Homo sapiens: one gene and its partners. The protein of the gene in region 1 purifies or fractionates together with the protein of each later gene. This does not show direct contact. Each region holds a gene or a part of one and is shown in the gene's direction. Other genes may lie near its edges.

Region 1 (3,653 bases):
AGACAGACTTGGAGAGAGAGCGTCCAAGAAATCACTAACCAACCCTCAGCCACTTCCATCAGCTTTTCCACAGGGACCCAGCTTCCTATTTAGTGCTATTTCTCCTTTTATGGCAATTGGCACATACAACTTTGCATAAAACAATCCAGGTAGACACTGTCTTATTTAAAGCTTTAAGTTATAAAAGGAATACATGTTCATTGTAGAACATTTCAAAAATACAAGACAGTATAAGAAAAAAAATCAAAATTGACTGGATTCTTAGCACCCCATGTTAACACTTCTTTCCATGCTTTTTTGTGCAAAACTCTTATGTATTTTTGGTAAAATTCAGTCCACACTGAAACTGTTGTATACCTTGCCTTTCTCAACTCAACTTTGTACTCTCAGTACAGTATGTTCCACATCCTTAACTCTGCTGTGGAAATGGGATTATCAATGGATGCATCTCATTTTAACACAGAGTTGTATCAAAATGTATTCAGTGTCATGAAATACCATTGGATATAGAGGATGCTTCCATTTTTTAATAGGTAATTAATGTCTCAGTATGCATTTCTGGTTAGATGATGGGAATGACCAACTATTTTTTTTTTTTTTTTTTTTTTTTTGGGATGGAGTCTCACCCTTTTGCCCAGTCTGGAGTGCAGTGGCACAATCTTGGCTCGCTGAAACCTCCACCTCCTGGGTTCAAGCGATTCTCCTGCCTCAGCCTCCCGAGTAACTGGGACTACAGGCACGTGACACCACGCCCAGCTAATTTTTTGCATTTTTAGTAGAGATGGGGTTTCACTGTGTTAGCCAGGATGGTCTCCATCTCCTGACCTCATGATCCGCCCACCTCGGCCTCCCAAAGTGCTGGGATTACGGGCGTGGGCCACCACACCCAGCCAGGGAATGACCAACTTTAAGGCTTCTAATGTGTATCATCAAATGGCCTCAAAAAGGTTGTAGCAATTCCTCCTCCCACCAGCACAGTGTTTGGGGCTGCCTATTTCACTGCACTCTCCTTGTAGGCTGTATTTGAAATTATTTTACAAATGTACAGTGCTGTGTTCTCTTGCCCTTTCTACTGAAGTTTCTCCAGGAACATGGTTAATGTCATGTTTTCTGGGGCCACTCAGTCTTCTCCTCATCTCACTGTCAGCCATTCATAGTGGTTAGGCAGTGAGTGTGTTTTATGTCTAGGGTATTGAAACTCTAAATACAGAAGCTTCCAGAAGCAAAGTGAAAAAGCTAGGAGAAATTTCTCAGTTCCTGAGTGGGTCTTTCTGTTTTATTTTATAGCTACCCAGAAATGGTGACTGGATTTTTCTTCATCCTGATGACCGTACTGTGGTTTACCCGGGAGCCTGGCTTTGTCCCTGGCTGGGATTCTTTCTTTGAAAAGTAAGTGATATCATTTCCTCCTTAAGAACAACCCCCTCACCCCAATTCTTCAGGCAAGACTTCATAGACTCTCAGGGGCAGATATGAAGCCAGGAAGATTTCATTCCCCAGGAAATCCACTCTTTTTAGGGAGGCTGCAGTGTGAAATCAGGAAGGAAAAACACTCTTTGGAGTCCCGGTCTGGGGTTGGAATCCAGTGCTGCATGTAGTCTCATTACATAAGCTCTTGGAAGCTTGGTTACCTCATAGGTGGTTATGAAAGTTAAAGGAGGAAACATCTATAAAGTACCAACTGTAAAGAAGAAATCAACTTCTCACTTGAGAAGGGAGGCACATGGAGGTGTGGCCTTCATAGGAAAGAGGTCTCATCCTCTTCTATTCTCCTTTATCTAACCAACTCCACTCCTGATCACTCCATCTAGGACTTGCCCCAATTAACGGGCTCACAAATTCACATTAAGACATCTACTCTAGCCAGGCCCTGCCTCCAGACATTCGCCATTGCCCATTAAATCCAAAGTGGATAGCGTGGCAGCAACTGGCAAGAACTAAGCTTAATGTTACCTCTAGATAAGTCCTAAAAAGAGGCACTGTGTTCGGACAGACTGCTCCGAGACATCATGTTACTCCTGAAAATTCCTGACCCTTCTCCTCAGCTATGCTTGTCTCTTTACTAGGAAAGGCTACCGTACTGATGCCACAGTCTCTGTCTTCCTTGGCTTCCTCCTCTTCCTCATTCCAGCGAAGAAGCCCTGCTTTGGGAAAAAGAATGATGGTGAGAGAAGGGAAGAAACTGGGGGTAGCTCTAGTTGAAGAATACCCAAATCAGACTAATACTCCCAAAGAGATTTACCAAGGTCCTTCAGATTCCCACCCCCCTCCCGGCCCCCGCCCCAAATAGCAGTATCCCAAATCATCCACTTCACCAATTAGGCTCCTGTCTCCACAAATCACGTCCATCAGGGTTTATCTGGCTTTACATCTCTCTCTAATCCAGGAGAGAACCAGGAGCACTCACTGGGGACCGAGCCCATCATCACGTGGAAGGACTTCCAGAAGACCATGCCCTGGGAGATTGTCATTCTGGTTGGGGGAGGCTATGCTCTGGCTTCTGGTAGCAAGGTAATTCTTGAATTCTGTTTTTTTGGGGTTTTTTTTTTTGAGACAGTCTTGCTCTGTCACCCAGGCTGGAGTGCAGTGGCACAATCTCAGCTCACTGCAACCTCCGCCTCCTGGGTTCAAGCGATTCTCTTGCCTCAGCCTCCCAAGTAGCTGGGATTACAGGCGTGCACCATGATGCCAGCTAGTTTTTGTATTTTTAGTAGAGACGCGGTTTCACCATGTTGGCCAGGCTAGTCTCAAACTCCTGACCTCAAGTGATCCACCTGCCTCGGCCTCCCAAAATGCTGGGATGACAGGCATGAGCCACTGCACCCGGCTTGAATTCTGTTCTTATGGGTCAAATACTTTTCCAGCATCTTTACCTAATGAGTCATTATGGGCATGGGAGGAAAGACTCAAAGCAGCTGAGAATGTTCACAGAGTCCCTGGGAAGGGAAACAATAGAGCAGGATGGATGTCCTCTGCTGCCCTAAGCTTCTCAGCGCTACTAGGAACAGAGGAACAGATGGGCTGTGCCACACAGTCATGACACATGGGCATTGATAGTTCATCTATGGGGCCCATGCTGCTACAAGCAAAAGGTTTATTGGAGTTTGCAGCCATCTCCTTCTGGGATTTGACAGTGGCAATAGGAGATGGTAACAGGAGATAGACATAGGTAATAGGTAATAGGAGTGGTAATAGGCGATCTCTGTAAGGGACCAGAGATGCTCCAAGTGACACATGGTGAACTGTCTGTCCACAATACATAGACTGAGCCCCTTTGGAAAATCTAGGCTAAAGCTGATGTAAATGCTTCTTGATTTTCTGACTGGGAGGATTTTGGATGAGATCTTTTAAGTGGGGTGGGGATGTGAGGGGATGATTGAATTTCCTAAAGTGTTAGCCCTCCATAAAATAGAAAACAATCTTAAGAATGAATTAGGTTAAGGTTCAGACTATTTCTCCCTCCATCTCATCTACATGCATTATCCCATGCTAAACTTGGTTCTCTTTTTTTTTTTTTTTTTTTTTTTTTTTGAGACAGAGTCTCACTCTGTCACCTAGGCTGGAGTGCAGTGGCGCCATCTCTGCTCACTGCAACCCCTGCCTCCCAGGTTCAAGCAATTCTCATGCCTCAGCCTCCCAAATAGCTGGGATCA
Region 2 (3,653 bases), on another chromosome or scaffold:
TCTCTAATGAGGCTCTTGGGAGCTGTACAAAAAGGTGAGGCTGGAGTTTGACTGTTGTCTTCTGTTGCAGGTTCTGGGCATTTGGAAAAGTTTCTCTTCGGGCTGTTAAGCAAGGCTAAAGAGGAGAGGAAAAAAATGTTAAAATGTGTGTTGTCTTCCTAGTTTTCCATTTGTCTGTGTTCATTTTGGAGTTGGACATAATTGAAAGCACCAAAGCTAATAACAGCTACCATTTATTCAACAGCTTGTATTTTTTAATACCTACCCCCAACTTTCCCTTGCCCACATTGATTGTGCCTCCTCCCAAAGCCAGAAAAACTCTAAACCTCAAGTTAACCAGTTGTATTAGCCTCCTCCCACTAAAGATTTTAACCAAGCACCCAAAACAAGAGTAACTAATTTGAATCTAGTCAAGTTAAGGTTCTTTGATGTTAGCCTTTATGTGTTTAAAATATGTGCGTGTAAATCTCTGAATTACAGTTCCATCACTCAGGCTAACTGGGAAAACTTGAATGACTCGCGGATACTGGCCCTAGTTTCAGTTGCTGTAACAACAAGCCGTGTTTCCTTTTGAACAGGCTGGATCAGGTGCAACACCACCATAAGGAAGAGTGGATTCGGTGGCATCACGATGCTCTTCACAGGATACTTCGTCCTGTGTTGTAGCTGGAGTTTCAGACGTCTGAGTAAGTCTTTCTATATTTCTAGCCTAAATAACAGGTCCCATTCCGTTATGTGGACCTCCAAGGGATTCTCTGAATTTTTTTTTTTTTTTTTTTTTTTTACAGCTTTACAGTATCTGGCATGCCCTGGTGAATGAGCTATTGCCTGGGGTTTCTGGGTTTTATTTTTTTGAGATACAGTTTTGCTCTTGTTGCCCAGGCTGGAGTGCAATGGCACGATCTCAGCTCACTGCAACCTCTGCCTCCTGGGTTCAAGTGATTCTCCTGCCTCAGCCTCTCGAGTAGCTGGGATTATAGGCATGCACCACCATGCCCGGCTAATTTTGTATTTTTAGTAGAGACGGGGTTTCTCCATGTGGGTCAGGCTGGTCTCGAACTGCCGACCTCAGGTGATCCGCCCACCTCAGCCTCCCAAAGTGCTAAGATTACAGGCATAAGCCACTGCACCTGGCAGGCTCCGGGGTTTTATTAGAGGCTTGGTTGTAATGGCCTGTATAAGATTTGACTAGAATTTACATAATTGCCCTTGTCCTCCATTTCATGTTGTCTTTTTTTTTTTTTTTTCCCACCCAGGCTAGAGTGCAGTGGCATGATCTCAGCTCACTGTAACCTCTGCCTCCTAGGTTCAAGTGATTCTTCTGCCTCAGCCTCCTGAGTAGCTGGGACTACAGGTGTGTGTCACCATGCCTGGCTAACTTTGTTTTTGTATTTTTAGTAGAGACAGGGTTTTCACCATATTGGCCAGGCTAGTCTCGAACTCCTGACCTCATGATTCTCCTGCCTCGGCCTCCCAAAGTGCTGGAATTACAGGCATGAGCCACCGCACTCAGCCTTTGTAGCTTTTTTCCCTTCCCTGCTAAAAGGTCAGGTACCTAAGAACTGTTACCCTGCTCCAATGGAAGGTGCTTTTCCTTGGTGCCTAAGAGCACCTTTTTGGCATTGAAACCAAACACCTTTACACCACAAAAGAGAGAAGGAGGAATAGAATACAGCTGTCACTTACCAATGTGTCTAAGTCTTATTGCTATCTCAGTTAATCTACTTTGAACACTTAAAAAACAAAGTGCCATTCTCCAAGTTTCAGCTTGCACTAAGTCTTAACCAGAAGGAAAATACCTTAATTTCATTTATCTTAATTCAAGATGTGTTTGTTCATTTCTTATTGTATTATTAAAAAAATCCTTCTAGTTAAAAAGATGAGTGGGTATCAAAAATATCAGCATTTTTGTATAATTAAATTTTTGTGCTGGTTTTTGTACAATCAAAAACCAGTATTTTGGGGCCGGGCGCGGTGGCTCACGCCTGTAATCCCAGCACTTTGGGAGGCCGAGGCTGGCAGATCACCTGAGGTCATGAGTTCAAGACCAGCCTGCCCAACGTGGTGAAACCCTGTCTCTACTAAAAATACAAAGATTAGCTGGGCGTGGTGGCGGGCGCCTGTAGTCCCAGCTACTCGGGAGGCTGAGGCAGGAGAATTGCTAGAACCCAGGAGGCAGAGGTTGCAGTGAGCCGAGATCGCGCCACTACTCCAGCCTGGGCAACAAGTGAAACTGCATCTCAAAAAAAAAAAAAAAAAAAAAAAACCACCAGTATTTTTGTACAATTAAAACAAAAAGCCCACTTTCAGATGAAAACTTCAGGTGTAAAAGTACAAGATAACGATGAATTCTGAAGGCCAGCATAATTCACACACTGGACTTCTTAAGAAAAAAAAAAATCACAATTTGATGCTAATTGGGATTCGTTTGATGAAATCAGTGCCTAGTGAGTAGCGGGTAGGTCCGACAGCAGGAACAAGGCGGCAGCACTCCTGCATGCTGGCTGGGATGGCCTCGCCGCCATCTCTTGTATCAGACACCTGGCCATGGGTGAGGAAAAGAAGTGCCTTTCTGATCGTCCTGCATAAATGGAGAGGCCCAAAACCAAGAGTCATTTCTCCCACAGAGAAAAGGGCTTTTCTTAAAGTTTTACCAGTCTGAAAGGGATTGTTTGATACCTGACATTAATGAACAGAGACTGAAGAAAGTGAAACAAACTTCTCATTGTGCTTAATACTCTATTTCTAAACTTATAAAACAAAAAGAGAATGATCTGTAGAGGCAAAAGATAGTAACAGTCATTGGAAGTGGCCTCTCGGATCCTTACATTTGTCTCTGTTTATCCAAAGAGCTGCAGCGGTGGCGTAAGTAGTGTTGACCTGGACATCACTTAAAGCTCTGGAACAGCAAAGGGCGTACAGTGGAGACGACTGCAATACATACTTAACAGTTTAAAAATGTATAATATTTGGGACAGGGAGAGGGGAGTGAAAAAAATAAAGAATAAAATTATTGGAATCTAAAATAATGATACAGGAAGTAAACGTATTATTAATATAGACAGATCTGGTTCTGTCTGGATGTTCTTGGCTTGCTCTCAGGAGCAACTGAGAATTAGAGAAAAACTAGTTTTGTTTAACCATAAAGTTGTTATTCAAGGAGATGTGAAGATGACAAAGTTCATCACTAAAATTAAGAAGTCACTTCTCAGTAAAAAGCTAGTATCTCATTACCATTCAGCTATATGAGATACCAGACTACTACCTATATGTTGATACAGGAAAGTATCTGAATTGGCAGAAAATAAGCCCACATCAGGCCCTTCCCCTTAGTTTCTTTGGGGCCCTTGACCAGATCTTGATAAGGTGTGAGAAACACAAGAGCTAAGGATGGGCATTCGAGTTGCAGGTAAGCCTCCGAAAAAAAGCTTACAAATATTTTTAAGCTGATTTTTAAAATAGCACACTAACTATAATGTTAAATCACATTTTATACATCTTAATTGAGTATAATAATGAACCGGTGGCTAATGTATCATCTCTTCCTGGAAACTTTTCAGAATCCCACCCCTATCTATCCCTTTCTCAAGAGTTTCTGTGCATTACTGAGAAATTCCTCTCCATTTGTTAGGGTTGTTTTTGGCTGGTGGGTT
Region 3 (3,653 bases), on another chromosome or scaffold:
CGGCCACAAACTCTGGCGTGGAGTTTTTCTGCTTTTCTTTCTGTTTTTGACAATACTTTCACAAGTCACCACCTCGTGGTTTGTTAGACATCACCTGATCTGAAGTCTGACTTCTCTATTCATAATCTCGATTTCTCTTTTTCCTTCCTGGCGTACCCACTATGCCTTCCCCTTCCCTCTTTGTAGTTGCTAGGCAGCCATAATAGTACTCCTAGACATGTGTCTTTGGCATTAATGTTGGCCACACTTAATTTATGCCTCTTTTTTTCCTCCAAATGACAACAGCCATGCTTTAAAACTAGATGTTTTCCTTTCTGATTAACTGGTAACGTTTATGTGGAAATCTGAAGACTTTGTGATGTCTGTCAGAAACTCTGCAACCCAATTCAGTGATCTGAGTTTACTATCCCCTAGCTTTTAAGCTATCACCTGTAAATAAAATGTCTGTTTACACTTTGAAGAAAACACTTCTTGATTTCATGCAGTTAAGATTCACATTGCACTCCAGCATGTTGCAGTTAATGGCTACTGTATGAAATTTCAAGATCATGTAATGTTTCCAAACCAGCTGGCATTCTGAGCCGAGTTTATTATGGCCATACACAATTTCCTAGGAGCCATGATGACTACGGCCTTGCTTAAAGACACAAATGTCTTCATCTGACGTCCAATTTTAGAAATTCGTTACTTCATCTCACAGTCACCTTCATATTTAAAAAATTACATTACAGCCCTGAGATTTTATTTATAAATCCACTTTTACCTGATTGATTTCTAAAGTCACATTCTTAGATTTCTGTTTTTGGTGGAAAATTGTTAAGTGAAGGATTTTACTGCCATGCATTTATTTCATCAGTAATAAGCGGCATTTAATCCTGAGACATTTCTTATTTAAGTGAACTCTGGCATGGCTCAGTATATCCTGAGGAGATTAGTAAGAGAATCCAGTTTAAAATAACTGCTTGGCCAAAGGGAAAAAAGAAAGAAATGCAGCCACAGAATCAGGAAATTATAGTGTTGAAGGAATGACAGCTGTTTTGGGTAACTCTACAACTCATGGATTTTTTCTTTTAGGGATTCAGTGGTTGAGTTTTTTTGCCCCACCCAAAGGTTTTTCTTCTGTCCTTTTTGCTTATTTTTCTTCCTTTTCTTTTCTGATCCATTGCTAGACAGCTTATTTTTCTTGATGTTTAGATTGTTAGTTGATTTCACAGCCTTTCCCTCATCCACTAGATAAATGCAATCTAAAAATGTAATTAAACTCCAATCTTTAGGGCAGAGGAGAACTATTTTTCCCATTGAAATAATTTGATTATTTCTTTTTTCATTCTGTCTCTTCTCTGGAGAAAAATTATTGTTTTTACTTGTTGGCTTAGAACTTGCTCTAAATGCCAAATTTTAAAAAGGAAAACTTTCCAGGGAAGTTTAGCAGAAGTTATGCACCAAAAGGATGTGTATCCTGGCTCAGGAGTCAGTGGACTTGTGCTGTTCAACACAATTCTCAACTCTGCTGCCAACTTTTTGGATGACCTTGGCCACTTAATTTCTCTAGACCTCACTCCTAGTGCCTGTAAAACAGATAGGTTAAGCAGGTGATTTCTAAGGGCCTTTCCAATTCTAATATTCTATGGCTCTGTCCTCTGAAAGAATCACAGCGCCAGTCTTAGATTTCTCTCACCGTTCTCCAGTATGACAAGGTGTATTCCATGCAGAAAATGGTTGTAGAGATTCCAGTGTTTACACAGACAGTAGGTAGGGGACAAGTCCTGTGCTGCTTCTTCAGATTATCAGATTTTTATTTGGTTTGTACTGGTCCCAGATTATTATCAAATACAGAGAAGTTTTGGGATTTGGGGGAGGGTGAGGTGGAGTGGATTGTTGAGTAGCACAAATCCATATTTCCTTATAGCTTTGGGTTACTGGTGGTTCTAATGCCCATCTTGGTTTCATTTTAGGCTTTGGGCGTTGCCTTGTATATAAAAATGCTAAATGTACGTTGAAACGATACACCAATCAGACTTTTGATAAAGTGATGGGGCCCATGTTGGATGCTGCTACAAGGAAACCTATCTGGCGACATGAAATCTTAGATGCAGATGGTATTTGTTCTCCAGGTAAAAGCCTTTTAAAAGAAAAAATTTTAATACTTTTTGACATCATATGTTATTCAATAATATTTCTGAATATTTGGCAAAAAGGGCAGAAAAAAGTAACAACCTATAAAACCACCATCCAAACTCAACCAATGAGGTCATTTTTGATGAATTTCCTTCCAGTCTGTTTTTCTATACACTATGTTTTTACCTATCAGTAATCTATGCTAACTATAATTTTCTAGTTATAATTTTGAATAATAGAAAAGCCACTTTAAGGAAATATTTAGAGTAGTTTATGTCCCTGCATCTGCACTGGTATTTCTTCATTTACACATTTAGCTTACAGACTACTTTAGAATTTTATCCCCCTGCAAAGGTATGACTCCATTATAATTACAAACTTGTAATGCATTTTGTTGATGAAACAAATAGCCCTTGCCCTTATGGGTCTCACAGGCTAGTGCAGGAGACTGACATTGATCAGAGGATCATGCATAAATCCAGGTTAAGGAATCATATAGGTAACTATGAGGCCATTTTATAGCAAGAGAATTTGACCTTGTTGGGAAGATCAGCATGGCTTTCCCGAGGAAGTGAGCTGGAATCTGAAGGATAGGGAAGAGTTAACTAAAGAAGAGGATCAGGGAGCATGTTCTAAGTAATGAGAAAAGCTTGTGCAAGGGTCCCAGAGCTTGGTAGTTGAAAGGTCTGAAAGAAGACCAGCGTGGCTAACAAGAAGAGAGTGCAGGGAAGCATGGTGCACATGAGTTGGTGGGTGACGCAAGGGGTAGGGGCCAGAGTAAGCAAGTCCTTGCAACCATGTTAGTATTGTCTTTATTTTATTTTATTAATTTTATTTTTGAGACAGGGTCTCAGTCTGTCACTGAGGCTGGAGTGCAGTGGCACAATCTCAGCTCACTGCAACCTCTGCCTCCCAGACTCAAGTGATTCTCCCACTTCAACCTCCTGTATAGCTGGGACCCATAGGCACGTGCCACCATGCCTGGATAGTTTTTTGTATTTTTTGTAGAGATGAGGTCTTACCATCTTGTCCAGGCTTGTCTTGAACTCCTGGGCTCAAGTTCTCCACCCACCTCGGCTTCCCAAAGTGCTTGAGCCACCATGCCGAGCCCATGATACTATTTTCATTATGATCCTAAAAGCAATGATATATTCAGATATGTGTTTTGAATGATCATTCTGACTACAGTGTAGAAAAAGGATTAGAAGGGCACTAAAATAGAAGGTAGACCTGGTACCAGGAGCTGTGGTGAAGGTGGAGAGAACCCAGTTTGTGAGGAGGGAAATCCACATGACTTTGTCATGGTTGGCCTGTGGGCGGTGAATGCTTTATCAAGCTGTGGTTCCAAAGAGACACAGAGTACGCGACTTCTCCTCCCTCCCTCTGCCTTTGTTTCTTGGAGAATTTTTCTCACCCTAACACTGGTCAGTATGGCTTGGAAAATACGCGCTGTGACAGTACTACAGGTAGTTGGTCTTTGAACTTACCAGGAAGAGATACAAAGCAAAAATGGGAATAACAGCATAACCAAAGAA

The links.
Region 2: the proteins of SLC13A4 (region 1) and MTNAP1 purify together in Homo sapiens (affinity purification with mass spectrometry; one large-scale study listed by BioGRID and IntAct). This does not show direct contact.
Region 3: the proteins of SLC13A4 (region 1) and POLR3B purify together in Homo sapiens (affinity purification with mass spectrometry; one large-scale study listed by BioGRID and IntAct). This does not show direct contact.

The regions. Positions count from the first base shown.
Region 1 is NC_000007.14:135,690,059-135,693,711, reverse strand, and holds part of SLC13A4 (solute carrier family 13 member 4), read left to right. Parts: intron 1-1,287; coding exon 1,288-1,389; intron 1,390-1,953; exon of another isoform or gene 1,954-2,066; coding exon 2,067-2,164; intron 2,165-2,386; coding exon 2,387-2,511; intron 2,512-3,653. UniProt on the Homo sapiens protein: Sodium:sulfate symporter that mediates sulfate reabsorption in the high endothelial venules (HEV).
Region 2 is NC_000017.11:73,242,318-73,245,970, forward strand, and holds part of MTNAP1 (mitochondrial nucleoid-associated protein 1), read left to right. Parts: coding exon 1-34; exon of another isoform or gene 35-105; coding exon of another isoform or gene 106-115; intron 116-578; coding exon 579-686; intron 687-2,850; coding exon of another isoform or gene 2,851-2,873; exon of another isoform or gene 2,874-3,029; intron 3,030-3,653. Other genes in the region: CPSF4L (putative cleavage and polyadenylation specificity factor subunit 4-like protein), read right to left, coding at 106-115. UniProt on the Homo sapiens protein: Critical regulator of mitochondrial DNA (mtDNA) abundance. Binds dsDNA throughout the mitochondrial genome without sequence specificity and controls mtDNA copy number by promoting its replication.
Region 3 is NC_000012.12:106,455,183-106,458,835, forward strand, and holds part of POLR3B (DNA-directed RNA polymerase III subunit RPC2), read left to right. Parts: intron 1-1,955; coding exon 1,956-2,114; intron 2,115-3,653. UniProt on the Homo sapiens protein: Catalytic core component of RNA polymerase III (Pol III), a DNA-dependent RNA polymerase which synthesizes small non-coding RNAs using the four ribonucleoside triphosphates as substrates.